Linked DNA regions of Homo sapiens. The protein of the gene in region 1 purifies or fractionates together with the protein of each later gene. This does not show direct contact. Each region holds a gene or a part of one and is shown in the gene's direction. Other genes may lie near its edges.

Region 1 (4,608 bases):
AAAAATCTGCAATATAATTCGACACTAATGGTTCAAACATTTGTCTTGAAAGGCTTTTTGATACCACATTGGTAATCAGCTGAAGACTGACAATAAGTTACAAAAATAACAAAACAATTTTAGATTGGCTAGCATTCCATTTATCTGTCAAATCTCTTCCTTCAAGAAACACATTCTTGTTGTTTGGAGGTAAGTATATTGGTATGCTTCCTTTGAAAAGTTACTTAGTCTTGACAGAGACTAAGTAGAAATATAAGTTAATTTAGACATAAATTAATTCACCAAAACCAAGGTTGCTAACTGGCAACAAGTCTGCCAATGTGATATGTTTGGCATGCTGTTTTCAAAACATTTGAATTCCTTGCAAAAAAAAGTAGTTGAATTAGGGTTTAAAAACCAATAAATTTTTTTTTTTTTTTTTTTTTTGAGACGGAGTCTCACCCTGTCGCCCGGGCTGGAGTACAGTGGCAAGATCTTGGCTCACTGCAAGCTCCACCTCCCGGGTCCACGCCATTCTCCTGCCTCAGCCTCCTGAGTAGCTGGGACTACAGGCGCCCGCCGCCACGCCCGGCTAATTTTTTGTATTTTTAGTAGACACGGGGTTTCACCGTGTTAGCCAGGATGGTCTCGATCTCCTGACCTTGTGATCCACCCCCCTCGGCCTCCCAAAGTGCTGGGATTACAGGCATGAGCCACCGCGCCCAGCCAAAAACCAATAAATTTTACATAGAAAATCCAGATTTCCTGTTTCTCTTGGGGTAAAAAATGGGAATATGTGACACTGCTAAACTACCTTTCTTGTATCTGCTGGAATTTAGGAACTGCTGATCTAAAAAACTATTCATTTTAAACAGTTCCACCTATCAGTAAACACATAGTCTACTTTACTCTTTACTGTTATCAGTCTAAATCTTCTAGGCATATGAATTTGCAACACCTCCTCTAAAAGTACATACATAGTCATTTTAGAATTATGGCAATAGGCTTAATGTGTTTTCTCAGCTGTAACTGTTAACCACCCCTTTAATTGAAGGGTATATATTACATTGTGATATTTCTATTTTAAATGCTTAGTTCATTTCTTGTAACATTTTGACTTCTTGATTGGTAGTATAGTTTTTTAAAAAATTGATCTTGAAAGTAGGGAAAGGAAAAATTAGATCAATATATTTTGATTTTATATGTAGCAATTATAAAATAATTTTAAAAAGAAGTTGCCTTTATATATACAAAAGATTCTTCCTTTCTATTTTTGTTCTTTTTTAATTAGGTGGGTTTGGAGGATTTGGGACAACATCTACAACTGCAGGTTCTGCATTCAGCTTTTCTGCCCCAACTAACACAGGCACTACTGGTAAGAGGCCATCTTAAGTCATTCATAGAAGTAAATGAAGTAGAGGTCAGATTTTTTTTTTTTTTTAACTTACGAAGTTCCAATTTTTCATTCAAAGGACTCTTTGGTGGTACTCAGAACAAAGGTTTTGGATTTGGTACTGGTTTTGGCACAACAACGGGAACTAGTACTGGTTTAGGTACTGGTTTGGGAACTGGACTGGGATTTGGAGGATTTAATACACAGCAGCAGCAGCAAACTAGTAAGTATGAGGTTTTCAGCTTCAAATACAAAACCGTGATGATACTAGCTGACATTATTGAGTGCATTCAGAATACTTTAGTGGACTTTTTATAAGAATTATTAATATATTCCAAAGGATTAGGAATGTTACTTTTCATGTTTAAATATGATAGCAACTGGGGAGAACACTGATTGGCACAGTTAGGATTATAAGGTCCCTGTGTTTAGGATCATTCCATTTAAATTTTTGTTGTTAAAAATAACAAATAGAGAAACTGCACAAAAGTACAGCTTAATGAATTATATATAAGTTTACAAAGGTTAACACCCTTGTAATCACTGCCCATGTCAGGAGATGGTTCCTGGCCAGCCAGTTCAGAAGCCTACCACATTTCCCTACCAATTGCTTCCCCATCAGAGGACCTGCAGTCTTGGCTTTTATGGTGATCATTTTCTTACTTTATATTTTGTCATTCAAGTATGTAAACAGTATTTGGTTTTGCCTGTCTTAAATCTCCATAGGCTCCTCTTTTATCTCTCTTTTTTATTTATTTTTTATTTTTTGAGACGGAGTCTTGCTCTGTCGCCCAGGCTGGAGTGCAGTGGCACGACCTCGGCTCACTGCAACCTCCGCCTCCCAGGTTCAAGCGATACTTCTGCCTCAGCCTCCTGAGTAGCTGGGACTACAGGCGCACACCACCACGCCCAGCTAATTTTTGTATTTTTAGTAGAGACGGAGTTTTACCATATTGGCCAGGCTGGTCTGGAACTCCTGACCTCGTGATCTGCCTGCCTCGGCCTCCCAAAGTGCTGGGATTACAGGTGTGCGCCACCGCGCCTGGCCTCTCTTTTTTATTTTTTAATTTGTTGAAGAAAACAGATCATTTATCCTATAGAGTTTTTTAGTCAAGACTTTTCTGATTGCACGCCTATGGTATAGTTTAACACATTCCTTTGTTCTCTGTATTTCTTGATGATTGGGTTAGATCTGGGGCGTACATATATATATTTTGTTGTTTTGTTGTTTGTTTGCAAGACTATTTTATAGGCCTATTTTTTATCAGAAGACATATAATATCTTTTTTTTTTGAGTGATCAGCCATTGAGCCATTGGTGATCATTACCTAGATCCATTAATTCATTAGGGGTTACAAATAGTGCCATTCCACCTGGATTCATTTATTTGTTGAAATACTTCTGTGAGGAGAAACTTGACTTCATCTGTTTGGTTGATTCTTTCTCTTTATTACTGGTTTTCAGAATAAAGAGTTGGTTATCTAGCATTCTCCAAAGATGACCAATTTTTTTTTAATGTCAGAAACTGCAGCCTTTAAACTAGTTACTATTTTTTAATCCATTGCAGTTACCATTCTTATTGATGCTTAAATTGTTACATCTTTGGCCAGTGCAAGCCTTTTCAAGTTGGCTCCCAAGTCCCTTTGAGACAGTCTGGTTATTAGTCTTTGATGGCTTCCTTACTAACCATCCTTACTAGGTGGTATGGCAGTAGGTTCCAGGGGTTGTTCTGTATGGATTAACTTATTCTCACAAGAACCCTGTGAAATAATACTTTTGTTATCCCCATTTTATGGGTGAAGAGAGGAACCTGAGAGATTGTGACTTACCTGTATACCTCTCTAGAAGAAGTACAGGGATGCAAATTCAACTACTCATTCTAGTGCTCTTTTCACTTTTCCAATCTGATGCCTCTTAAAATTACTTCTGTTTCATTTTTTTAAGTAACTTGATTGACTAGCTAAAATTCATCCTACTCAGTCACTGAAGATTAGTTATTAACTTATTAAACATGAATTTCAAGGATTGCCTAACAGTAGGATGAAGATAATAGAATAGTATTCTCAGAATTATTCTTTCAAGTATTCCAGTCATTCGTCTTTTCTACAATCCTGCAAAAATACAAAATTTGATGAAATATTTAAGTAGTTAAGGAAAGAACAGCAAAAGTGAAGTGTTTCCTTTGTTTCTTGAAATAAAGTCTCTCCAACTATGAGTAACTGTAGTTACATTTGGTTTTTTTAGGAAAATGGGAATTTGAATCTGGTGCTATTTTAAAATTGAAAGGGGCTCATTTTGTTATGTAATATCCATTTATTGTATATATCGTATGTCAGGCATTGGGTGTACAAGGTTGAAGACCACAATCCTTGCTCATAGTCAAGGAGATTCTAGGGTATCCACGCAGAGGAAATAACATGGCATGGTTTATGGCAGAGTATAATGCCTTTGGGACCAGTATAACTAGATCAGTGCAGTTTTTTTAATGCATAAATGACCTCAGGGTCAGTAGTGAGAGTTGGAGAGATAGATATGAATTGGATTATTAGCGTGCCTTATATGTTTTACTAAGGAGCTGTCCTTTAAGCAATTCTAAACTGTTGTAGGATTAAGTAGACAGGAAAATAATCAGATTTTTAGAAGTATCTCTTAGAGAAATACAAAGATAGATTATAGGTGGGTTGGAATGGAGGCAGAGATCTGGTGAAGCTGTTGCCAAAATCTGAGCAAGATATAGTGAAGACCTGAATTAAGGCAGTGACAGTTAAGAATGGAGAGAAAAAACAGGATGTGAATTTGAGAGAGATTTAACTTGTAGAATCAATAAAAGCGAATGACTGGATAAAGGTATCTTGGGCTTCTGGGTGGCGTAACTGAAGGATCCCTTGCTCTTCACTAAGATCCAGAATACTAAAGCAAGAGCAGATGTTTGTGGGTAGATAATGAGTTTGAGGTGTCCCTTGGGTAGTTGTATATATTTATGAAAGCCATCAGAACGTAAGTAGTATTTAAAGTGGTAGATATGGATGATGTAATTTAGGAGACCTGATTCCAGAGTAAGAGGAGAGTACTAGAACAAAACTCTTAGAAACACTAACACTTAAATGCTGCCATCTCCTATCCCCAAGCCAAGTAGGATTTTGACCATAAATTAGCGAGCAGCATTGTTAGGACCACTGCTTGTCCTATCTCAGTATAGAGATGCCCGTCCATGTATTCCTCATACTTATTAGCTC
Region 2 (3,351 bases), on another chromosome or scaffold:
TTCTTCTCTAAACTGGTTATTCTAGTTAGCAATTTGTCTAACCTGTTTTCAAGGTTCTTAGCTTCCTTGCATTGGGTTAGAACATGCTCCTTTATAAAGCTCGGAGGAGTTTGTTATTACCCACCTTCTGAAGCCTACTTCTATCAGTTCGTCAGACTCATTCTTCATCCAGTTTTGTTCCCTTGGTGTTGAGGAGTTGTGATCCTTTGGAGAAGAGGCATTCTGGTTTTTGGGATTTTCACCCTTTTTGCATTGGTTTCTCCCCATCTTCTTGAGTGTTTCTACGTTTGGTCTTTGAAGTTGGTGACCTTCAGATGGAGTGTCTGAGTGGATGTCCTTTCTGTTGATGTTGATGCTATTCCTTTCTGTTTGTTAGTTTTCCTTCTAACAGTCAGGCTCCTCTGCTACAAGTCCACGGGAGTTTGCTGGAGGTCGACTCCAGACCCTGTTTGCCTGGGTATTAGCAGCAGAGGCTGCAGAACAGCAAAGATTGCTGCCTGTTCCTTCCTTTGGAAGCTTCATCCCAGCAGGGCACCCACCAGATGCCAGCCAGAGCTCTCCTGTATGAGGTGTCAGTTAGCCCCTATTGGGAGGTGTCTCCCAATCAGGAGACACGGGGGCCACAGACCCACTCAAGGAGGCAGTCTGACCCTTAGCAGAGCTCGAACCCTGTGCTGGGAGATCCACTGCTCTCTTCAGAGCTGTCAGGCAGGGATGTTTAAGTCTACTGAAGCTGTGCCCACAGCCACCCCTTCCCCTGGGTGCTCTGTCCCAGGGAGATGGGGGTTTTATCTATAAGCCCCTGACTGGAGCTGCTGCCTTTTTCTTTTCAGAGATGGCCTGCCCAGAAAAGAGGAATCTAGAGAGGCAGTCTAGCCACAGCAGCCTTGCTGAGCTGCGGTTGGCTCCACCCAGTTTGATCTTCTGAGTGGCTTTGTTTACACTGTGAAGGTAAAACCACCTGCTCAAGCCTCAGCAATGGTGGATGCTTCTCCCTCCACCAAATTCTAGTATCCCAGGTCGAGCTCAGACTGCTGTGCTGGCAGTAAGAATTTCAAGCCAGTGGATCTTAGCTTGCTGGGCTCCATGGGGGTGGGACCTACCGAGCCAGGCCACTTGGCTCCCTGGCTTAAGCCCCCTTTCCAGGGGAGTGAACAGTTCTGTCTCGCTGGCATTCCAGGTGCATCTAGGTTATGAAAAACAAAAAACAAAAAAACTTCTAAAGCTAGCTCAGTGTTTGCCCATACAGCCGCCCAGTTTTGTGCTTGAAACCCAGGGCCCTGGTGGCGTAGGCACAAGAGGGAATCTCCAGGTCTGCGGTTTGTGAAGACTATGGGAAAAGCACAGTATCTGGGCCGGAGTGCACTGTTCCTCACGGCACAGTTTCTAATGGCTTCTCTTTGTTAGGAGAGGGAGTTCCCTGACCCCTTGTGCTTTCTGGGTGAGGCAACACCCCACCCTTTTTCGGCTTGCCCTCAATGGGCTGCACCCACTGTCCGATCAGTCTCAATGAGATGAACCGGTTACCTCAGTTGGAAATGCAGAAATCACCTGCCTTCTGCATCGATCTCACTGGAAGCTGCAGACCTGAGCTGTTCCTATTCGGTCATCCTGCCAGCAATCTCCAAATTATTTATTTTATTGCTCATGTCATCAGTTTGATATACAGTTAATTTTCTTCAATTTGATTCAATTTTTTAGGGATTCATGTTTTTCCATTTTAATTTTTTTACTTTTTTTTTTTTTTTTTGAGACAGAGTCTCACTATCTCCCAGGCTGGAGTGCAGTGGTGCGATCTCGGCTCACTGCAAGCTCTGCCTCCCGGGTTTACGCCATTCTCCTGCCTCAGCCTCCCAAGTAGCTGGGACTACAGGCGCTCGCCACCACACCTGGCTAATTTTTTGTATTTTTAGTAGAGACGGGGTTTCACCGTGTTAGCCAGGATGGTCTCGATCTCCTGACCTCGTGATCCACCCGCCTCGGCCTCCCAAAGTGCTGGGATTACAGGTGCAAGCCACCGTGCCCGGCCAATTTTTTCACTTTTTAATTATGTACAACAATAGTTGAAACCATACATATACTCAGGAGTGGAATATAATTAGCAAATATTTTCTTCAGATTGTTATTTGTCTTTGTTTATGGTGATTTTTTGACATGTGTAAGTCATTCAGATATATTTTTATGTAGCTAAATTTATTAATATTTAACTTGCTTTTGGAATTTGGGCTTTATTTATGACAGTTTTTCTGTTTCCAGATTAAAGAGGAATACATCATTAATGACAAGATATGAAATGCAAATGCACACATTAAAAAAACCCTAAGTATCATTAGCCTTTCGGGAAATACAAATCAAAACTACCATGAGATAACATTGTATAGATAGATAACATCCATTTGATTGATTAAAAAGGAAATATATGGATATATCAAGTGATGTAAAGACTGAGGAATAATTGGGATTTTCATACACTGCTGGTAAACAATAAAAATAATATACCCACACAAAAAATAAAAAAAGGAGGAATACATCTATTTTTAATTCAAATATATGGTATGAGTCATTGTGTTTAGATCTTGCATCCATCTGGAAATTATTATTTAGTAGTATTTTATTTTAAAATATCAGATGCTTTTTTTCTTCCCAGATGCTGTTTTAGATATTAGAGATATAATGGTGACAAGATCAACAATATCTAGTTTCTCTCAGAGCTAATGTTCCTGTAAGGGGAGACAGCCCACAAAGATGATTTTAAATAAAGGTAAATGCCATAAAGACGGTGAAAGAAGATGATGTGACAAGGAGGGACTGAAGAGATGCCTCTCTGATAAGATGATATTTGAGTGATTCTTGCATCACATGAAGAGGACAACTATATCAGGCTCTGGGACAGAACTATCCAAGCCAAGGGAATACTTAGTACAAAGGCACTGAGGAGCAATAGCCCCTAACACTTATTAAATGTTTACTATGAACCAGACACAATGCCAAAACACTTCCTCTGCATTATCTCATTTATTTCTTACAACTACCCTTTGAATTAGGTAACAGTAATCATCCTATTTTGAATATGAGGACACTGAGATTGAAAGGGCCTCCTCTCAGTCTCCAGTGTAGCTTTCAGGGCTCAACCTGCAACAGTGAATTCCTGATTTTATCTCTCCAGGCTTTCATGAGAAGGACAAGAAGCCATATTGCCGAAAGGATTTCTTAGCCATGTTCTCACCCAAGTGTGGTGGCTGCAATCGCCCAGTGTTGGAAAACTACCTTTCAGCCATGGACACTGTCTGGCACCCAGAGTGCTTTGTTTGTGGGGTCTGTATAATCACTTTTCTTTCGGACTTAGGGAAA
Region 3 (3,629 bases), on another chromosome or scaffold:
CTGGGCTTGCACGAAGCAGTTACTCAAAAATATTAGCAGACTGATCACATCAGAAATGAAATTTTGAAGAGCAGGTTGTTAATAGCTAGGGGGAGACTTTGGAGCCTCACCCCACCCCACCTGGCAAACCAGAACCAAGGCCTTGATGCACTTTCCTGTCTTTGGTTTGCATCTAAAGCAACCAGGATGATGATGGCCTTAGGGACAAGGACATATGGGCACAGAAGGATGCTGCATCCACATGCTCAGGGCAGCGCTGCAGGGGCCCACTGCTTCCCTCCCTCTTTATCATGGGGAAACATCTGGGCCTCAATGAGGAGCGCACAGAATTCCCATGGGGCTGTGTTCCCAACCTGCTGCTCTTTGTGCTGGGCCTGCTGAAGAGACTAAGGCCTCAGTGCCAGGGGCAAGGTGCCAAGGGCAGCCCAGACAGTCAACTTGAGAGCCCAAACAGTTGCATTGTGAATTCAATAATTTATTAACTCTTCAATAAATCTTTATCTAATTTTCCTGTAGCCCAGAAATTGTGCCAAATAGAGGCTACCAAACAAAAAATGCTCTCTACACTTGAGGGAGAGAGACGGGACTAAAAAAAAATAAAGGCAATTAAGTCTTGCTGCTGCTCTAGCCGTATGTGTGTGTAGTGTGGGGTCTGAGGCAGGGGAAGCTGGCAGCAGATTGGAAGGGACCTGCCCATGTCCTCCTCAGGGGAGGGATGCTGACTCCACCTCATCTTCTCCTCAGAAACCCCACGATCCAGCAACTGTGGATGAGGTCCTGCGTCTGCTGGATGAAGACCACACAGGGACTGTGGAATTCAAGGAATTCCTGGTCTTAGTGTTTAAAGTTGCCCAGGCCTGTTTCAAGACACTGAGCGAGAGTGCTGAGGGAGCCTGCGGCTCTCAAGAGTCTGGAAGCCTCCACTCTGGGGCCTCGCAGGAGCTGGGCGAAGGACAGAGAAGTGGCACTGAAGTGGGAAGGGCGGGGAAAGGGCAGCATTATGAGGGGAGCAGCCACAGACAGAGCCAGCAGGGTTCCAGAGGGCAGAACAGGCCTGGGGTTCAGACCCAGGGTCAGGCCACTGGCTCTGCGTGGGTCAGCAGCTATGACAGGCAAGCTGAGTCCCAGAGCCAGGAAAGAATAAGCCCGCAGATACAACTCTCTGGGCAGACAGAGCAGACCCAGAAAGCTGGAGAAGGCAAGAGGAATCAGACAACAGAGATGAGGCCAGAGAGACAGCCACAGACCAGGGAACAGGACAGAGCCCACCAGACAGGTGAGACTGTGACTGGATCTGGAACTCAGACCCAGGCAGGTGCCACCCAGACTGTGGAGCAGGACAGCAGCCACCAGACAGGAAGAACCAGCAAGCAGACACAGGAGGCCACCAATGACCAGAACAGAGGGACTGAGACCCACGGTCAAGGCAGGAGCCAGACCAGCCAGGCTGTGACAGGAGGACATGCTCAGATACAGGCAGGGACACACACCCAGACACCCACCCAGACCGTGGAGCAGGACAGCAGCCACCAGACAGGAAGCACCAGCACCCAGACACAGGAGTCCACCAATGGCCAGAACAGAGGGACTGAGATCCACGGTCAAGGCAGGAGCCAGACCAGCCAGGCTGTGACAGGAGGACACACTCAGATACAGGCAGGGTCACACACCGAGACTGTGGAGCAGGACAGAAGCCAAACTGTAAGCCACGGAGGGGCTAGAGAACAGGGACAGACCCAGACGCAGCCAGGCAGTGGTCAAAGATGGATGCAAGTGAGCAACCCTGAGGCAGGAGAGACAGTACCGGGAGGACAGGCCCAGACTGGGGCAAGCACTGAGTCAGGAAGGCAGGAGTGGAGCAGCACTCACCCAAGGCGCTGTGTGACAGAAGGGCAGGGAGACAGACAGCCCACAGTGGTTGGTGAGGAATGGGTTGATGACCACTCAAGGGAGACAGTGATCCTCAGGCTGGACCAGGGCAACTTGCATACCAGTGTTTCCTCAGCACAGGGCCAGGATGCAGCCCAGTCAGAAGAGAAGCGAGGCATCACAGCTAGAGAGCTGTATTCCTACTTGAGAAGCACCAAGCCATGACTTCCCCGACTCCAATGTCCAGTACTGGAAGAAGACAGCTGGAGAGAGTTTGGCTTGTCCTGCATGGCCAATCCAGTGGGTGCATCCCTGGACATCAGCTCTTCATTATGCAGCTTCCCTTTTAGGTCTTTCTCAATGAGATAATTTCTGCAAGGAGCTTTCTATCCTGAACTCTTCTTTCTTACCTGCTTTGCGGTGCAGACCCTCTCAGGAGCAGGAAGACTCAGAGCAAGTCACCCCTTTGTACTGAATTGTCCTCATCTTGTGGGGGGTTTCAGGACTATTTTTATCTCTGACATCTCTCTATTGCCCCATCTACCCTAATGCATCAATAAAACCTTAAGCCACTGGCCTCTGTGTCTCATTCAACCACCTTCTATTGATATTACAGGCCAAAGGCTGTAGAGTTATGAGATGATGAACTGGACATAGTCCCTACCTTTGAAGAGCAACTAGTTGAGAAAATATTATATGAGATTCCTGCTATATATCATACTTAATACTTGGCAGAGATGGACCAGCAAAGGTTTCATACAAAAGGCGCTTTCTTTATGATGGCCCTGAAAAGACAATTAGTATTTAGATAGATAGGCAAAATTCCTCTTGGTCTTTCACTACCTCTAATTCTATAGCGTTAAACCGCTATTCACCTGTAAGGTCACACAGGAAAGCTGATTTAAGATTACCAAGAAATGGAAGAAGGCCCCCAGTGGCTGTGTAGGGAAAGAGCGAGAAAGCTTGTGTTACCAGGTACTGAGCCAGGGGCCAGAATTTTGTGCTTCCCTTCCTACCTCCCCCTCAGTGTCAGCTCTGACCTCTCATGATGTCTCACCCACCAGATATAAACCATGTTATGGGGTAGAGACTATCAATTCTGGTTTATTTTAAGAGTGACCAGAAGAACAGTTTTAAAATAAAGATTTATAGGGACGGGCGTGGTGGCTCACACCTGTAATCCCTGCATTTTGGGAGGCCTAGGTGGGCGGATCACCTGAGGCCAGGAGTTCAAGACCAGCCTGGCCAACAAGGTGAAACCCCACCTCCACTAAAAATATAAAAATTAGCTGGGCATGGTGGCACATGCCTGTAATCCCAGTTACTCAGGAGGCTGAGGCAGGAGAATTGCTTGAACCCAGGAGGCAGAGGTTGTAGTGAGCCGAGATTGTGCCACTGCACTCCAGCCTGGGCAACAGAGCAAGACTCCATCTCAAAAAAAAAAAAATGTATAAACCTAACCCTACAGATGCTGGTTCTAAGGTTTGGAGCCAATTAATATTGTTTAGAAACTTCTTGGGGGTCTTGTGCTTTTGTCAGTACAGAAGACTAGATAATCTGAAAGATTTCCCAAGACAAAATAACTAGATCCTGCATAAAGCATTTTTTTCACTGTGTTACTGGTTTACAGGAAGTAAGGGAAATCGCTAAGGAAAAAACAAAATGTGGAATAAACAACAACCAAACAAAAACAACACGTAGGCTAAATAACAACCTCCAAAGACGTCCGGGACTTAATCTCAGAAACCTGTGAATATGTC
Region 4 (4,608 bases), on another chromosome or scaffold:
CTTATGATCTGGGTGAGATTGCAAAACAAAAAAAGCATACATTCTGGAAAGGTGTTTTGGTTTCAGTTTTTATCTTATATGGTAAAGACCTTCTGCAAATGGTTCTTAATATGGTCAATATATGAAAGCAAAATGGTAATATATGGAAGAAAAATGACCAGAAGATCCCCCTCACCAGAGAGTTTCTATATTACAGACATATTTTCTGTCAATGCCCTTCAATAATAGAGGGACTTCATGGGTCAAAGCCTTCTTGGAATTGCAGTAATTTTAAAGGCAGAACTGAGCTGAGTGCTCAGTGGAAAGATGGCCACAAAAGCAGCAGTGACTAAACGTTCAATTCTGGCCATTCAGCCACACTGGTTGTAATTTGAAAGTACCAAACCTCTTATTGGACTAACTAGGCCATATGCTCTGCCAGTTTATCCTGGTGTCATGTCATTATCCTTCAGCTTCCCACTTGAGGGCTAGAGAGAAACATCCTACATTGGCTAAGCAGATGTAGGATAGCTTCTAGTTAGCCAAGAGACTATCCTGAGTGGTCTCACTAGAGGTCTGAAATTCATAGTCAAGCTTGAATCCCAAAGTTGAATCACCGAAGTTGCCTTTTAAAAACTTAAATTTCGGCCGGGCCTGGTGGCTCACGCCTGTAATCCCAGCACTTTGGGATGCCAAGGCGGGCGGATCACAAGGTCAGGAGATCTAGACCATCCTGGCTAACACAGTGAAACCCTGTCTCTACTAAAAATACAAAAAAAAAAAAAAAAACAAAACAAAAAACTAGCCGGGCGTAGTGGCTGATGCCTGTAGTCCCAGCTACTTGGGAGGCTGAGGCAGGAGAATGGCATGAACCTGGGAGGCGGAGCTTGCAGTGAGCCTAGATTGTGCCACTGCACTCCAGCCTGGGTGACAGAGTGGGACTCTGTCTCAAAAAAAAAAAAAAGTTAAATTTCAACTCTAACCCGTTTGCTTTAATTCAGCAATTATTTCAGAAAGGAAATAATCATGATTTTGAAATACTCTTCTGTCAAGAGTGTTTACTGTATTTGATATAATTTCATTAAACTTGAAAACAAAGAGAGATGTTACTTGGGAGCTTCCCATCCAAGAATGGTGTTTTAGGAGAAGTTACATGTTTACACAATCTTAAAACTGATGTCAATTTTCCACAGGATACTCCTATACCTGGCACTTACCACTTGAAAACTTTTATTGAAGAATCCCTATTAAATCCAGTGATAGCAACCTACAATTTTAAAAACGAAGGAAGGAAAAAGCCACCTCTTGTGCAAAGAAACAATCCAGTCCTAAATGATCTTCCGCAGTATATGCCTCCTGACTTCCTGGACCTGTTAAAGAAGCAAGTGGCTACTTACTCATTCAAAGACAAACCACGGCCAAGCCCCAGCACACTAGTTGACAAAGATCAGGTAAAGCGCTACTGGCAGATTGCTTTGTGTGGGAAAGCTACTAAGAGCCCCTGAGGAAAGTATTTTTATACGTAGAGTATATCTTCCCCCAGGAGAAATGGAAAACCTTTAAGATGTCTTATTTCCCGTAGAAATCAAACAAGGACTGCCTGATTTGCAAATGTTTCCAGTAAGATTTTTCCCTATAACATCTTCTTAACCTAAGGGGAGTACATGGGGAGAAATGTTTTCCTCTTGGGCAACTCTTGGTGGGATTCCCCTAGCCTGGAGAGCACCTGGGATCTTATCTGTCATTGGGCTATGCTCTTATCTCTTCAAGCAGTATATGTGGTGAACCCTCTTCTTTTAAAGAGAAAACCCTGCCTCTCGGGGAGTATCCTTATTAGAGCATAAATATAACTACATACCACAGGGAAGCTTTTAAAAACTTTTCTTATAGAAATGACCCATCTCTACAAAAAATAAAGAAAAATAGCCGGGTGTAGTAGTGCATGCCTGTGGTCCCAACTACTCTGGAAGCTGAGGTGGGAGGATCACTTGAGGCCAGGTGTTGTAGATCAGCCCGGGCAATATAACAAGCCCTCAACTCTTTAAAAAAAAAAAAAAAATAGCTACTTGGGAAGCCAGGGCAGGAGGATCCCTTGAGCCTGGGAGTTTGAGGCTGCAGTGAGCTATGATTATATGACTGTACCCCAGCCTGGGTGACAGAGTGACATGCTGTCTCTAAAAATATTTTTTTTAATTAAAAAAAAAAAGAAAAGAAGTGAGCATGTGGTCCCAGGAGGGTCAGCTTCTACTCTCAGCTCCACCAGTTCATTTGTAGCATTGATAATAAAGAGCACTACTGAGCTCACAGCCCTGCACTAGGCTCTGCGGAAGGAAGATGTTCCTGACCCAGAGGTATTTAAGCAACAATACAGGACAGAGTTTATCAAGTGCTCAGATAAATAGTGGAGCTGGAAATGCCAAAGGAGAGTTCAAGTGCCAAAGGAGGCTGGATTAAAAGGCTGGAAAGCTCCGTGGCTTACGTAGAACTTAACTGGACCTTCACTAATACATGTCTTTTATGTGGCTCTTAATGGTTTACTATGGGCTTCCATGTATATTCTCTTAGTTGCTTCCTTCTTAAGCATTCTGAAATAGAACAGATATTAACTCCATTTTACATGCAAGAAAACTAAGGTGAGTAGAGACTAAATAACTTGTCCAAAGGCACATTGCTAATACTTAAGTAGGTGAAGCAGCACTTTTTACTGAGGGCTTCTGCACCAAAATTTAGTCCTCTTTCCAGTCTACCATGTGCCCCTCGCCTTGAATGAGGGGCAGGGTTTGGGTAGATGGAATCCAAAGGAGGTATTCCGAGGGAGGAGTACAGCATTGTTGAAGGCATGGAAGTGGCAGGAACGTGGTCTGTTCAAGGGATAAGAGTTGTGACTTGGACTTTGTTACTTGGGACTTTGGGTACTTGTCTCAGTTCTCTCTGCATTAATATTTCCCATTTATAAATAAGCTAATAACAGTATCAATCTTCATAACTTCATCAGAATATTATTGTGATAACCTGAGAGAAATGTATTGCAGCTGAAGGTTGAATTAAGTACAAGGGGTTGTAATTACTAAAGTGGACACAAAATTTTCAGCAGGATGAACACATGTCAAATCCAAACTTTCTACTACTTTACAAATTGTAGCTTTGAAACAGAACAGAATGATAAGTGTTCATTAGGTATATCTTATCCTGTTTGCTTCAGTGGATGCATACAAACTCTAAATTATACTAGCACCTTTATGGCTTGCTACCAGATAACCAGGCTATGTGTGAAATTGTTCTGGCTATCTCAAATGCAAAGTCTTTCTTACTCTCTTCTGCCATTTTCTTTTCTGCTTCCTCTCTTCTCGCTTTTACAAGTCCCTGAAAATCAGCCAAAGGCCCAGTGTTGAAAGGAGAAAACGTACAAGGATGGAGTTACACAATACTTAAAGTTTTTAAAGACCAAAAGAATTAGGCTTACTCGGAAGGATGGATAAAACCTTCTGAAAACATAGTTTTTCTGTTTCTTTCTTCTTTCCTCTCCACCTCCCACAAAGGATTAAACTCTAGAAACTGGAAAAATTCAGTGTTTTTCTAATTTTCTATTTCAAAGATATATATATTCACAAGGGGAAACATAAACATTGTTTAGTCACCAGTAAAATTCAAAATTCTGTTTTAATAGCAGAACTCAGAATACTTTGAATTTGGGGTAGATATAGTATGTATTATTGTTATACATTAAGCTAGAATAGCATTCTCAAATTTTATAATTTTTCACAGAATATTCATTTTATATCTTTCAGTGGCTGCTTTTTATTTGTAATAAAGTTTTCAGGAATACTATGCAGCCATAAAAAAGGATGAGTTCATGTCTTTTGTAGGGACATGGATGAAGCTGGAAACCATCATTCTCAGTAAACTATCGCAAGGACAAAAAACCAAACACCACATGTTCTCACTCATAGGTGGGAACTGAACAATGAGAACACTTGGACACAGGAAGGGGAACATCACACACAGGAGCCTGTCGTGGAGTTGGGGGAGTGGAGAGGGATAGCATTAGGAGATATACCTAATGTAAATGACGAGTTCACGGGTGCAGCACACCAACATGGCACATGTATACATATGTAACAAACCTGCACATTGTGCACATGTACCCTAGAACTTAAAGTATAATAATATAAATAAATAAATAAATAAAGTTTTCACTATTTTTAGTATCTTTATTCTGAGGCATGTAACTCAACTCGAGAATCTGTATTGGAGAGACTTTCTATTTTTTTTTCAACTTTTATTTTAGATTCAGGGTCTACATGTGCAGGTTTGTTACCCGTGTATATTCCATGATGCTGAGGTTTGGGGTACGATTGATCCCATCACCCAAGTGCTGAGTGGCTAACTATTAGTACCCAATAGTTAGTTTTTCAACCCTTTCACCCGTACTGAACAGTCTTATTAGGCATATATATATAGGGGCTATGTGCAGTGGCTCACACCTGTAATCCCAGCACTTTGGGAGGCCGAGGCAGGTGGATCACTTGAGGCCAGGAGTTCGAGACAGCATGGTGAAACCCCATCTCTACTATAAGAAAAATACAAAAATTAGCTGGGCATTGTGGCACAGGCCTGTAATCCCAGCTA
Region 5 (4,608 bases), on another chromosome or scaffold:
CTTGGCTCACTGTAAGCTCCGCCTCCCGGGTTCATGCCATTCTCCTGCCTCAGCCTCCCGAGTAGCTGGGACTACAGGCGCCCGCCACCATGCCTGGCTAATTTTTTTGTATTTTTTAGTAGAGATGGGGTTTCACTGTGTTAGCCAGGATTGTCTCAATCTCCTGATCTCGTGATCTGCCCGCCTTGGCCTCCCAAAATGCTGCCACCGCGCCTGGCCCAGAGCATCACTGTTTTGTAGAACTTCCAGTGATGATGGAAATGGGGCTAGTGCGACAGATGTATTTTCAATTTTATGGCATTTTAATTGCCATTTAAATAGCCACTGTGGCTAATGGCTATGATATTGGAAAGTACAGTTCAGAGTACTGAGAAGTGTGGAGATTAGTTTTCACTCTCAAGGAAAGGTAAGATGCTGGAATGTGCAGTTACAAGGCTAACCTAATGATATTTGCAAAAGTGCTGCAGTGGATGACTCCTGTGTTGAAGAGAAGAACTGCAGACCCACGGTGGCTGCCTACTTCGTGTCTCCACTTCAGGATCTGCGAGAAAATCAAGCTCTGTATGTCCAAAGCAGCTGAACATACTTGGAGACAACTCTTCCCTCACAGTAGCATTTCCTTCTTCCATTTTATCTTCCATATAGCCAGAGTGATTAAAAAAAAAAAATCCAGGTTTATGCAGGTATAATTGTAGAGTTTGTTGGGTTTTGACAAATGGATGTAGTCATGTAACCACTGCCGTAATCATGATGTAGAACGTTTCCATCACTCCAAACAGTTCCTTGGTCCCCCTGTGTACTCAATCTCCATCCCTTATCTCTGGCAGCTGCTGATGGGATTTCTATAACAAATGGAATCATGTGATATGATGTGTAGCCTTTTGAGTCTGGCTTTCATTTTTGTTTTGTTTTGTTTTGTTTTTTGAAGGGACAGAATCTTTCTCAGTTGCCCAGGCTGGAGTGCAGTTGCACAGTCCTTGCTGAGTGCAGCCTCCAGCTCCTGGGCTCAAGTGTCCTCCCATCTCAGCCTCCTGAATAACTGAGTCGACAGGCATATGCCACCAGGCCTGGCTCTTTTTTTTTTTTTTTTTTTTTTTGAGACAGAGTCTCACTCTGTCACCAGGCTGGAGTGCAGTCGCACGATCTCGGCTCACCGTAACCTCTGCCTCCTGAGTTCAAGCGATTCTCTGCCTCAGCCTCCTGAGTAGCTGGGATTACAGGAGCCCATCACCACGCCTGGCTAACCATCTTTGCCAGGCTGGTCTTGAACTCCTGACCTCACGATCCACCCACCTTGGCCTCCCAAAGTGCTGGGATTACAGGCGTGAGCCACTGTGCCTGGCCAGTCCTGGGTAATTTTTAAAAATTTTTTGTGGGGGTGGAATCTGGCTGTTGATGCCCAGGCTGGTCTTGAACTCCTGGCCTCACACAGCCCTCCCACCTTGGCCTCCCAAAGTTTTGGGATTACAGGCATGAGCCACCACCCTACCTGGCGTCTTTTGCTTAGCCTAGTGCTTTTGAGATTCATTCTTGTTGTTGAGCCTATCTGTTAGTGCATTCCTTCTTCTTGCTGAGTAGTGTTCCAGTATATAGACTGCAATTTGTGTATTCATTCACCTGTTTATGGACATTTAGTTTTTTTCCAGTTTTTAGTGACTGAAGAAAGCTGCTATAAGTAGATAAGTATCAAGGCCAATTTTTATTTATTGATTTATTTATTTTTCTTTTTTGAGACAGAATCTTGCTCTGTTATCTACGCTGGAGTGCAGTGGCACGATCTCAGCTCACTGCAAGCTCCGCCTCCCGGGTTCACGCCATTCTCCTGCCTTAGCTTCCCGAGTGGCTGGGACTACATGCGCCCGCCACCACACCCTGCTATTTTTTTGTAGTTTTGGTAGAGATGGAGTTTCACCGTGTTAGTCAGGATGGTCTCGATCTCCTGACATCGTGATCTGCCCGCCTCGGCCTCCCAAAGTGCTGGGATTACAGACGCGAGCCACCGCGCCCGGCTGCATTGTCTCTTTCTTATAGATTAAGAAGAGTGTAAAAATTTTTCTGGATTCCAGTTCTGTATGGTTATATATATTGTAAATCCATTCTCCCAAGTTGTAGCTTGCCTTTTCATTCTTTTTATGGTATTAAAAATTTTTTTTTAATTTAAATTAAAATTTTTTTTTTGAGATGCGATCTCGCTGTTACTGTGGCTGGAGTGCCTATTCACAGTCACGATCATGGTGCACTGCCTCCTTGAACTCCTGGTCTCAAATGATCCTCCTGGTTCTGCCTCCCAAGTAACTGTGTCTGTATTTGTGAGTTACCACTCCCAGCTATGTGCTGTCTTTTGATGAACAGAACTTTAATTTTAATGCAGTTAAATTTATGGATTATGCTTTTTCAGTCTTGTTGTTTTTGTTTTCAGACAGGGTCTCGCAATGTCGCCCAGGCTGGAGTGCCGTGATTTTGAATCAGTGCAACCTCTGCCTCCTGGGCTCAAATGATCCTCCTGCCTTGGCCTCTTAAGTAGTTGGAAATGCAGGCACACACCACCAGGCCGGGCTAATGTTTGTATTTTTTATAGAGCCATGTTGGCCAGGCTGGTCTCGAACTCCTGGGCTCAAATGATCCACCTACCATGGCCTCCCAAATTCTTTTTAAGTCTTCTTAAGAAAAATGTTTAGGCCGGGCTTGGTCGCTCACACCTGTAATCCCAGCACTTTGGGAGGCCAAGGTGGGCGGATCACAAGGTCAGAAGATCGAGACCATCCTGGCTAACACAGTGAAACCCTGTCTCTACTAAAAATACAGAAAATTAGCCAGGTGTGGTGGTGGGCACCTGTAGTCCCAGCTACTCAGGAGGCTGAGGCAGGAGAATCGCTCGAACCCAAAAGGTGGAGGTTCAGGGAGCCAAGATTGCGCCCTTGGACTCCAGCCTGGGCGACAGGGTAAGGCTGCGTCTCAAAAGAAAAAAAAAAAAAAAGAAAAGAAAAAGAAAAACGTTCGTATCCTAGATTCATAAAGAAATTCCTCAATATTTTCTTTTATCTTGAAATTGAAAATGAATCATCTCAGCAGAAAGTATACTCTCTTCTGACCTAATAATGGTTGGTGATTTATTAGTCTCAGCATTGCAACAGCTTTGCCACAAAGATAAAGATTGAGGACTGTGTTTTACTCTAATAAAAACTAAAATAAAAAAGCACAACTCAAATTATTTGGCTAGGAGCAAAATTATAAGTAATTAATAATCTGTGTGTTTTTCTGGAGCAATCCAGCTTCGGTTCCTACTTTTTTAGTTTCATACAATGTTCATTTTGAAAAACTATAGAGATGGAGGGGCAGAATAGGACTTTTTGGTGTAAGTGACTATTAATATGTATACTGTGAAATATTTTTTCTTTTTTAAATAAATTTATATATGTGTATTTTAACATCGAGATGGGGGTCTCACTGTGTTGCCCAGGCTGGTGTCAAACTCCTGAGTTTAAGTGATCCTCCCACCTTAGCCTCCCAAAGTGCTGTGATCACAGGCATGAGCCACTGCACCTGGCCTATTTTTTTTTTCTAGAAAATTTAATATAAAGATGTGGTGATGAATGGGAGAAGAACAAAGACGTTAAGGATTTCGTGCCAGACTGTGTTAAGATTTAGGTTATGCCACCTGTCTTCCATGTGATCTTGGGCAAGTTACTTCCTTTCTAAGCTTCAGTTTTCTTTTTTAAATTTTTTTTTCTTTTTTTTACTTTTTTTTTTTTTGAGACGGAGTTTCACTCTTGTTGCCCAGACTGGAGTGCAGTGGCATGATCTCGGCTCAGTGCATCCTCCACCTCCCAGGTTCAAGCAATTCTCCTGCCTCAGCCTCCCAAGTAGCTGGGATTACAGGCGCCTGCCATCATGTCCGGCTAATTTTTTGTATTTTTAGTAGAGACGGGGTTTTACCATGTTGGCCAGGCTAGTCTCAAACTCCTGACCTTAGGTGATCCACCCGTCTTGGCCTCCCAAAGTGCTGGAATTACAGGCATAAGCCACTGTGCCCAGCCTTGTTTTTTTTTGTTGTTTTTTGAGACAGAGTATTGCTGTCTCCCAGGCTGGAGTGCAGTGGCGCGATATAGGCTCACTGCATTCTCCAACTCCTGGGTTCAAGCGATTCTCCTGTCTCAGCCTCCCGAGTAGCTGGAATTACAGGTGTGTGCTGCCATGCCTGGCTAATTTTTGTATTTTTAGTAGAGACGAGGTATCGCCATGTTGGCCAGGCTGGTCTTGAACTCCTGACCTCAGGTGATCCACCGACCTTGGCATCCCAAGGTGCTGGGATTACAGGTGTGAGCCTCTGCGCCCGACTGACTTCCTTCATTCATAAAACAAGGATAGTAGTGCCTACTTGTGTTGGGGGTTCCCCAGGCCATGCCAGGCTCAGTGACTTATAAGGAGGCTTCACAGTCATATTTGCAGTCATTACATATTACAGCAAAAGGACACAATGCAGAATCAAAGGGAAAAGGCAAATGGCATGAGGTCAGAAGGAAACCAGGCCGAAGCTTCCCAGAGTCCCCTCACTGTAGACGCACACAGTATATGCTTAATTCCTTTCGTGTGTAACTGGAACAATGT
Region 6 (4,608 bases), on another chromosome or scaffold:
GTTTGTGTCCTCAAGTATTTTTCTGTTTTTGCTTTAAGTGACAAATTCTATTTAATACCATTCTGCATCTTAGTCCTTGTAGCATTTATGCCTCTATTCCAAGTTTAGGTGGTAGTGTTGCTTCTCTTTTAAACTTTATTTAAATACTCCTTTTGTAGTATTTTGGATGAGAGAGGATCAAATACATAATTTATCTCACTCTTCTGTCACTTTCCACTCCAGGTTCACAGGTGGCTGTTGGTCTTTAGTAAGGGTGCTGTCTTCCCTGTCTGATCCTTAGCAAAAGTAGGAAGGTAGGTCTTGTTCATTTCTGTACCACTGTGGCAGACTCCTGATACTGAGTTGAAATTCATGAGTGTTTATGGGATAAATTAATGTACAAAAGAAATGAATCTTTCCCTTTTTCCTGCAGTAATGATAACATTGGCTCAGTGGTTTACAGCTTAGAAGTACACTGACACTCATTATCTTATTTAGATGTAATCCAATTTGTTAGTTTGCCAGCTACTGCTCTTTTCCCTTTCTCAGGCACATTGAAATTTACTTTCCCTTTGGGGGCTCTGCTAGTTTATTCCTAGCAGATCTGATCTGGCAGTGTGTTTGTAAAAGGATGCTGAACTGTGTCTTGAGGAAGCTCAGAATGAAATCTGAATTTCAGAAAGATTCCTGAGATAATTTTTCTCTGTCTCTTCTCTTTTATTCTTGTTTTAATAAATTTTAGTTTTATGAGGATTGTTTTGGTTTTAAAAAACTTTAAATCATTTTTTAAAACTATTTTTTACAACAATTTTAGGGTTACAGAAAAATTGCATAGTACAGAGAGTTCCTGTATACCTTGCACCCAGTCTCCCCTTTTAGTATGGTATATTTGCTATAATGCAAATCTTTTTTTTTTTTTTTTTTTTTTTTTTTTGAGATGGAGCCTTGCTCTTGTCGCCCAGGCTGGACAGTGTTGGCCAGGCTGGTCTCGAACTCCTGACCTCAAGTGATCCGCCTGCCTCAGCCTCCCAAAGTGCTGGGATTACAGGTGTGAGCCACTGTGCCTGGCCATGCAAATCATTTTTTGAGATAAGTGGGGCATATAAAAATATAAACAAAATGAAGTTGCTTTATCTCTACAAGCCTCAGTTTCCTTATCTGCAAGATGAGGGGGGTGGACTAAATTTCTAAATAGCTTTAAAATTTTTTAATTATCTGCTAAAGTAAAATAATTATATAATTGTAATATAATTTTCTTTATTTGCTTAAGTATTACTAATACCACCTTGCCAAATCATGTTTGCAAGTTACTGACAGCCATATCCTAAAAGAAAACTTAATGAGAATTCATGGAACTATGTGTGGCAGGACTGCTTATTAGAGATATTAGGTTGAATGATGTGAAATTGCCATTTTTGTAGATAAAAAGTAATGAGTGAGGCTGGGCTTGGTGGCTCACACCTATAATGCCATTGCTTTGGGAGGCTTGGACCAGGGGGTGGCTGTCTGAAACCAGGAGTTCGAGACAAGCTTAGGCAACATGGCAAAACCTTGTCTCTACCAAAGAAAAAAAAAAAAAGCCTCGGTGGCACACATCTTCAGCTCCTCTGAAGGGTGAGGCTGGAGGATCCCTTCAGCCCAGGAATTTGAGGCTGCGGTGAGCTATGATTGCACCACTGTACTCCAGCCTGGGTGACAGAGCTAGATCCTTTCTCTAAAAATAATAATAATAATAGGATAATATTAGCAATTTCATATGGTTCAACCTAATGTTTTGGGATAGGGATTCAACAAAGTGTGAGGGGGCCTTTGAGACCTCATAAACTCCCACTGCATGCAAAAGCCCGGCTCAGCCCTCACCATACTAGGAGAGAAAAGGCTCCTCAGTTCCCTTGGAGTAACTTGGATCTACATTATTGTAGGTAGAGTTGTTGGCAGAAATCCTGGGATAAGAGAATAGTTTCCTGGAAGATCTGTGCCTCCAACCAGCAGAGAGGGATTGAGCTTCATTGAACTCAACAGAGCCAACATTTCATAGCACCATGGTGAGTTGGTCACACAGCCTTGGCAAAAAGGCTGAAAAGGAGGGTGTAATAGTATGGGGAAAGGTTGTATTCCCCTGGTTCGTAGGCTAGGAAGAGGCCTGGAGTACTGGTGCCACCAAACCTTTATTGGTGCCATTCTATTCTCCCTACTTTATGCACTTTCCTTACTGCCTAGTACAGGCTCTGCAAACTCAAGTATCTTCGGTTGTTCAGGAGGTAATGTAAATTAGTAAGCCGAGTTTTCCTCTTTAATGCTACTATAACAGAAACAATAGCACAGTTGCAATGATAAATGACAACTGAAATATGCTATCATTGTGAGGGAGAGAATCGGTGTGTGCATAGGGGAGGCCATGATGAACTGGAGAGCACATGCCCTGTCTAAAGGGGGCAGGCACTATACAACTGTGCAGAGCACACGCCCTGTCTAAAGGAGACAGGCGCTGTTCAACTGCACGGAGCGCGTGCCCTGTCTAAACGGGCAGGCACTATTCAACTGTGCAGCTGGTTGTTGCCTTATTGAAATATGGGTCAAGCATCACTGGGTATTCTGATTTTCCAAAGGAGCCAGAAATATGGATTTTATGTACATTCTCCCAATGATAAATGTTGGCACCTAATTTGAATTCTTAAAAACTATTATGTGGGCCACACAATGGCTGAAAAGAGCTAGCAGGGCACTGATTTGTCATCTCTGGCTTATGGCTTAGCTCTGCCAGGAGTGAGGCTCACATGCATTTCTTCACTGGACATTGTTGACAAGTTACAATTAAAATGAATTAGACAGCTCCTGCCTTTGAGGTACTCATGGATTAGCAGAGAAAATAGACAAGTAATGATGATAAGATGTAGAGTAGACATCAGAACATATGTATTCTCTCTGTGTATATAGCTATAAAAGTGACTAACTCTTCCTGGGTTCATCTGGGAGGACATGATAGGACGTGGCATTTGAGCCAGGATGTGGGAAATCAATAGTTTGGTGCATTAAAGGGATTTGGGGCCCTTGAAATTTCTACTGTATGTGCAAATGTTAGGTTTGCATTCGCTGTATATACCATTTTGTTGATAGGTAGTTGAAAATACGGATATTCCTTAGCCCTGCTGGTGAGAGTCTTAGGGTTAATAAAATGAGAGAACTCTTCCTCTGGCCCAGGTTATGGGATAATTGTGTGTTTTAGAGGCCTAAGTAACTCAGAGGTCATGATACCCTCATTTCTGGATGAGGGAAGTAGCACATCTGAGGTCACAGAGCCCATTGGAGGCAGAGCTTGGACTAACACCCAGAACTCTTTACCACCATGCCTTCCCCTGTCCTGGGTATCTCTGATGAAGGTCACCGTTAGGCTGGCCGCCTCTGCCTGTGGTGGCCCATTGCCCTGTTTTGGCCCAGCTCCTGGTGGGTGAGGGGGTTTGGCCATCCTGCTGCCACTGGTTCCTTCTCTCTTTTGGATCCTTTGCCTGAAATGCCTGCTACCCCTTTTCTTTGTCAGATAGACTACTTGTGTTCAAATCTCTCTCAACCATATGCCAGCTGTGTGGCCTGGCACAAGTTTTTTAACCTTTCTAAGCCCCAGTTTCCTCATCTATATATAAAGAGTTATAATAGTACGTTTGGTGAAGTGTAATGAGAAGGCATTGGAAGGTTTCAAGATTTTTGTAAAAACAAAATGACGTAATGCATGTAAAGCACTTAAAGCAACAGCCCTCCAGAAGCACTCAGCAAGTGTTAACAATGATGATGATGATTCACACAGTTCACAGGCTCCCAGGCTGGGTTCTCTTCCTTTGTTTTCTCATATTATCTTATTATTTCACATGCTACATTGTATGTATTGTAATAGTTTGTGTCTATTTCCCCTGCTAGACTAAGAACACCTTCAGCGATTCATTCAACAAATGTTTCTGAACCACTGTGCCAGGAACTAAGGATGCAGTGATAAACCAGGAGCTCTTGGTTTAGTGCAGAGTTCCAAAAGTCATGCCAGGAGACACTAGTCCTGTGAGCTTGTCTCATGGTCAGTTAAATTTGGGGAATGATGCTCATCATAGCGCCCTTCAGAGATGAGGGTCCCTTTTAGTATTTTAAAGGTTCTGAGGAGTCTTGTGTGTAGTAAAAGAACAGTCCTTTCCATTTGACTATGTGCTTTGGTCCCCAGTTCAAGAGGAGGTTGAAGTGGCATGGCAATGGTTAGAGACCCTGCTGGGCGTGAACACCCTCTGGCTACCTAGGGACCTGTGGGCCTACCACCTGGTGCCCTCATGGAGACAAGAAGCCCTGGGTTGAACAACATGAAGCCCCAGTCACTGCAGCTGGTACTGGAAGAGCAGGTGCTGGCACTACAGCAGCAGATGGCAGAGAATCAGGCAGCCTCCTGGCGGAAGCTGAAGAACTCCCAGGAGGCCCAGCAGAGACAAGCAACCCTTGTGAGGAAGCTGCAGGCCAAGGTGAGGCAGCTGCCCTTTTGGGGAGGGGAAAGAGAACAACCCCCAGAGCTAGGTGCTGAGGTGAGATAAGGGTTGCAGGAGGCAGAGTCTTGTGGTGGGAGTGGCCTACATCTAGCATGGTGAGATAAGACCCAGA
Region 7 (4,608 bases), on another chromosome or scaffold:
GGATTGCTTTTAAAATGTAAGAGTTTTTGGTTGAAATGCTGTTCCTGTGGTTTTTGTCTCTTGGTTGGAGTGAAAGATTTTGCAGGCTGTGATACAAATCCAGTTCTCTGCTTATTTTCTCCTCAGTCCTTGAAATCCAAAACCAGATCCCTCCCATTGGCCCGTTGTAATTAGAACCTGCCCCACAATAGACGCACCTCCTAAAGCATCTCAGATTCATTTCTTTCCTGAGGATTAAGTTTTTAAACCTTCCTGGCCAAGATAACAGTGTTTTAAGAGGCTCTTTTCTTTTATTATTATTATTATTATTATTACTCTTTTCTTTTTTTGAGATGGAGTCTTGCTCTGTCACCCAGGCTGGAGTGCAGTGGCAGGATCTCTGCTCACTGGAACCTCCACCTCCCGGGTTCAAGAGTTTCTTCTGTTTCAGCCTCCTGAGTAGATGGGATTACAGGCATGTGCCACCATGCCCAGCTAATTTTTGTATTTTTAGCAGAGATGGGGTTTTACCATGTTGGCCAGGCTGGTCTCGAACTCCTGGCTTCAAGTGATCTACCCGCTGTGGCCTCCCAAAGTATCAGGATTACAGGCATGAGCCACAGCACCCTGCCAGGCTTGGGTGTTCAAGGAAGAGAAAGAAGGCAGTGTGGCTGGGACATAAGTGAATGAGAGGTGGTAGGGTAAGAAATGTGTAGAAAACTATGCAGGGGCCTGATCACATTGGATCTTGCACATCTTTTTCCAAACCTCAGGAGGAGTCATTCTGCTTTTGTTGTTACTGGTTCCTCACTTCCGCACTTTATTGTATGCTGACAACCTTCCATACCATGGGACTGAGACTGCCCTCAATAGTATCACCAATGTCTTTTTTTGTTTTTTTTTTTTGAGGCAGAGTTTCACTCTTGTCGTCCAGGTTGGAGTGCAATGGCGTGATCTTGGCTCACTGCAACCTCCGCCTCCTGGGTTCAAGCGATTTTCCTGCCTCAGTCTTCCGAGTAGCTGGGGTTACAGGAGCCTGCCACCACACCTGGCTAATTTCTTGTATTTTTAGTGGAAATGGAGTTTCACCATGTTGGCCAGGCTGGTCTTGAACTCCTGACCTCAGGTGAACCACCCGCCTTGGCTTCCCAAAGTGTTGGGATTACAGGCATGAGCCAACGCACCCAGCCACCAATATCTTAATGGCCACACAGTGCTCATTGATAGATGCCTTGGCCCTGGGCTATTGTTGCTATAGAATTGGTTTGATGAGTACATATTACATGAGATCTGGGCTCATTAGAGCTTATGGCTTGAGCAGGGACTCCTTGGCCTAGGTTTATGCTGCTCCTGGCCTTGTTAATGACTGCTATTAACACTCTACCCCCTTTTTATTTTTTTGAGATGGGGTCTTGTTCTGTCGCCCAGGCTGGGAGGCTGGAATGCAGTGATCTTGGCTCACTGCAGCCTCCGCTTCTCAGGCTTAAGTGATTTTTCCTGCTTCATCCTTCTGAGTAGCTGGGACTACAGGCACGCACCGCCGTGCCCGTTTGATTTTTGTTTTTGTTTTTTTAGTAGACACGGGGTTTCACCATGTTGCCCAGGCTGGTCTCAAACTCCTGACCTCAAGTGATCTGTCTGCCTCGGCCTCACAAAGGGCTGGGATTACAGGCATGAGCCATTGCGCCAGGCACCACTCTACCCTTTTGACTTTGAGCAAGTAAGGTCGTTGATTCCATACATTCATTAAGATTCCTGCGTGGCAGAAATCTAACCCCAACTGGTATAACCAAGACAAGGAATTGATTATCTCATAACCTTAAATCAGGTGTGGCTGCATCTAGGTGTTCAAATGATATTGTCAGGACCCAGGCTCTCCATCCCTTGGCCCAGCTTTCCTCTGTTTTGGCTTCACTCTGAGGCAGGCTCTCCCTTGTGATAGCAAGATGACCACCGGCAGTTTCAGGCTTACCTCCGGCTTCAGGCTTACCTCCAGCTTCAGGCTTACCTTACCAACCCTAGTGGAAAGAGAGTTTCATTTTTGACAGCTATGCAAAAGGTCTGGACCTGGGCCCTCACTGGCTTAGTATGGGTTAGGCCCATCCTTAAGCCAATCATTGGCTCAGCATGGGTTAGATCCGTGACTGTCACTGGCTGAGCATGGGGGTTAGGCTCACCCTATCATTGGCTCTGCGTGAATTAGGCCCACCTCTGTCACTGGCTCATCGTGGGTTAGGCCCACCCATGAGCTGATCACTAAGGTCGTGAATAGGCATATGCCTCTTCCCAGGTGTGGAGGATGATGTCAGATCCCTCTGAACTCATGAAATGAGTAGGGTATTCTCCCAAGGGAATATTGTGCTGTCACAGAAGATGGAAAAATGAATGCATGTCTGGAAAAAACAAGCAAAACTACAAATCATTAGCTTTATATGACATTTATTTATTTTTTGTTTATATGTTTTTGAAATGGAGTCTTGCTCTGTTGCCCAGGCTGGAGTGCAGTGGTGTGATCGTGGTTCACTGCAACCTCTGGCTCCCGGGTTCAAGCGATTCTCATGCCTTAGCCTCCCGAGTAGTTGGGATCATAGGTGCCTGCCACCACACCCAGCTAATTTTTGTGCTTTTAGTGTAGACAGGATTTTACCATGTTGGCCAAGCTTGTCTTGAACTCTTGACCTCAAGTCATCTGCCTGCCTCAGCTTCCCAAAGTGTTGAGATTACAGGCATGAGCCACCACGTCTGGCCAGCTTTGTATGACATTTCGCCTTTCTGCCTTGATCAAACTTTCAGAGAATCTGCTTTCCAGAGGGATGAGTGGGTCGGGAAATAGCATGTTTTCTCTGAATGAGGGAAAGGATTGAAAAAGTAGGAGGGAGAAAGGATGTGAATATGAGTCCCAACAAATGCAGAGTTATCGGTAAGTTTTGTGCTTGAATCTAGGTACAATTGTGCATTTCCTGGTTCTGCATGAATTAGGCCCACCTCTGTCATTGGCTCAACATGGGTGAGGCTCACTAACTTCCACCAGAAGTTAGTGGTGGTGTCTGTGTTGACACTTACATGTTTAGCCTAATGATTTCATGTTTTAACCAAAACTATATAGCTTGTTGGTTATATCTTAGAAAGTGATGGTTTTTGCTCATTCTTTTGTCCCCAGGGATACACACCAGCCTCTAAGTTCTCTTGAGGGAAGGAAGGGACCTTGCACACAATCTTTTTTTTTTTTTTTTTTTTTTTTTTTTTGAGAGGAAGTCTCACTCTGTCACCCAGGCTGGAGTGCAGTGGTGCGATCTCGGCTCACTACAACCTCTGCCTTCTGGGTTCAAGTGATTCTCCCGCCTCAGCCTCCCGAGTAGTGGGGATTACAGGCGCACACCACCATGCCCGGCTAATTTTTATATTTTTAGTAGAGATGGGGTTTCAGTGTGTTGGCCAGGCTGGTTTCAGACTCCTGAGCTCAGGTGATTCACCTGCCCTGGCCTCCCAAAGTACTGGGATTACAGGTGTGAGCCACTGCGCCCGGCCTTGGACACAATCTTTTTTTTTTTTTTTTTTGAGACGGAGTCTCGCTCTGTCACTCAGGCTGGAGTGCAGTGGCACGATCTCAGCTCATTGCAACCTCCACCTCCTGGGTTCAAGCAATTCTCCTGCCTTAGCCGCCTGAGTAGCTGGGACTACAGGTACCTGCCACTGCGCCCGCCTAATTTTTGTATTTTTAGTAGAGATGGGGTTTCACCATATTGGCCAGGCTGGTCTCAAACTCCTGACCTTGTGATCTGCCCGCCTCGGCCTCCCAAAGTGCTGGGATTACAGATGCGAGCCACTGAGTCTGGCCTGGACACAATCTTACTTGGATTCCTCATGCCCTTTTGACAAGCTCAGAGCCTCAAATAAATTCAGAAAATAGGTGATTACATCAAACAGCCTCTATCAACAGGGAGTATACAAACCGTTAGCCCAACTGTTAATAGAAGTCTGCTTTCTTGCTGGGTGTGGTGGCTCACACCTAGAATCCTAGTGCTTTGGGAGTACAAGGCAGGAGGATCGCTTGAGCCCAGGAATTTGAGACCAGCCTAGGCAACATAGTAAGACCCCATCTCTTAAAAAAAAAATTAGCTTGGCGTAGTGGCCTATACCTGTAGTCCCAGCTAGTCAGGAGGCTGAGGCAGGAGGATCAGTGCCGCCTAGGAGTTCAAAGATGCAGTGAGCTATGATTGTGTCACTGCACTCCAGCTGGGTTGACAGATTGAGACCCTATCTCTTAAAAAAAAAATTGCTTCCCTCACCTCTGCTGTGAAACAGCTCAAAGTCCTGAGAGCCAAGGCCCCTACCGCCCACATCCTCTAGCTGTTGGCTAATTTATTTCATCGTCTTTTAGGTAATTCTCCAGAATTCCATCGCTTTCCTCTTTTTCACCTCCCAGTTACTCCTGCACTCAGTTCTTCGTCTTTCCTCCTCCACTGTGTAGAAACTGTTCTTGCTCACACCGCCAGTGACCGACTTTCGCTCAGCCTTGTGGATATTTTCCAGCCCTTATCTTCCCTGCTTCTCTGTTGCATCCTTGTGACACTGGAATGTTTCCCTTTTTTCCCTTGAAACCGCCCACTCCCAGGACAGCACAGTCTT

The links.
Region 2: the proteins of NUP54 (region 1) and LPXN purify together in Homo sapiens (affinity purification with mass spectrometry; 2 studies listed by BioGRID and IntAct, with this or other methods). This does not show direct contact.
Region 3: the proteins of NUP54 (region 1) and CRNN purify together in Homo sapiens (affinity purification with mass spectrometry; 2 studies listed by BioGRID and IntAct, with this or other methods). This does not show direct contact.
Region 4: the proteins of NUP54 (region 1) and STPG4 fractionate together in Homo sapiens (co-fractionation; one large-scale study listed by BioGRID). This does not show direct contact.
Region 5: the proteins of NUP54 (region 1) and WDR59 purify together in Homo sapiens (affinity purification with mass spectrometry; 2 studies listed by BioGRID and IntAct, with this or other methods). This does not show direct contact.
Region 6: the proteins of NUP54 (region 1) and CEP250 purify together in Homo sapiens (affinity purification with mass spectrometry; 2 studies listed by BioGRID and IntAct, with this or other methods). This does not show direct contact.
Region 7: the proteins of NUP54 (region 1) and NDE1 purify together in Homo sapiens (affinity purification with mass spectrometry; 2 studies listed by BioGRID and IntAct, with this or other methods). This does not show direct contact.

What each region holds. Positions count from the first base shown.
Region 1 is NC_000004.12:76,141,136-76,145,743, reverse strand, and holds part of NUP54 (nucleoporin p54), read left to right. Parts: exon of another isoform or gene 1-189; intron 190-1,270; coding exon 1,271-1,354; intron 1,355-1,451; coding exon 1,452-1,595; intron 1,596-4,608. UniProt on the Homo sapiens protein: Component of the nuclear pore complex, a complex required for the trafficking across the nuclear membrane.
Region 2 is NC_000011.10:58,528,007-58,531,357, reverse strand, and holds part of LPXN (leupaxin), read left to right. Parts: intron 1-833; coding exon of another isoform or gene 834-928; exon of another isoform or gene 929-2,785; intron 2,786-3,166; coding exon 3,167-3,315; intron 3,316-3,351. UniProt on the Homo sapiens protein: Transcriptional coactivator for androgen receptor (AR) and serum response factor (SRF). Contributes to the regulation of cell adhesion, spreading and cell migration and acts as a negative regulator in integrin-mediated cell adhesion events.
Region 3 is NC_000001.11:152,408,059-152,411,687, reverse strand, and holds the end of CRNN (cornulin), read left to right. Parts: intron 1-744; coding exon 745-2,094; 3' UTR 2,095-2,445; downstream 2,446-3,629. UniProt on the Homo sapiens protein: Promotes cell proliferation, G1/S cell cycle progression and induces expression of the cell cycle regulator CCND1. Regulates proliferation induced by pro-inflammatory cytokine response via activation of NFKB1 and PI3K/AKT signaling pathways.
Region 4 is NC_000002.12:47,148,080-47,152,687, reverse strand, and holds part of STPG4 (protein STPG4), read left to right. Parts: intron 1-1,172; coding exon 1,173-1,430; intron 1,431-4,608. UniProt on the Homo sapiens protein: Maternal factor that plays a role in epigenetic chromatin reprogramming during early development of the zygote.
Region 5 is NC_000016.10:74,974,810-74,979,417, reverse strand, and holds part of WDR59 (GATOR2 complex protein WDR59), read left to right. Parts: intron 1-4,608. UniProt on the Homo sapiens protein: As a component of the GATOR2 complex, functions as an activator of the amino acid-sensing branch of the mTORC1 signaling pathway. The GATOR2 complex indirectly activates mTORC1 through the inhibition of the GATOR1 subcomplex.
Region 6 is NC_000020.11:35,458,082-35,462,689, forward strand, and holds part of CEP250 (centrosome-associated protein CEP250), read left to right. Parts: intron 1-222; 5' UTR 223-293; intron 294-1,901; 5' UTR 1,902-2,024; intron 2,025-4,183; 5' UTR 4,184-4,286; coding exon 4,287-4,472; intron 4,473-4,608. UniProt on the Homo sapiens protein: Plays an important role in centrosome cohesion during interphase. Recruits CCDC102B to the proximal ends of centrioles. Maintains centrosome cohesion by forming intercentriolar linkages.
Region 7 is NC_000016.10:15,656,230-15,660,837, forward strand, and holds part of NDE1 (nuclear distribution protein nudE homolog 1), read left to right. Parts: intron 1-4,608. UniProt on the Homo sapiens protein: Required for centrosome duplication and formation and function of the mitotic spindle. Essential for the development of the cerebral cortex.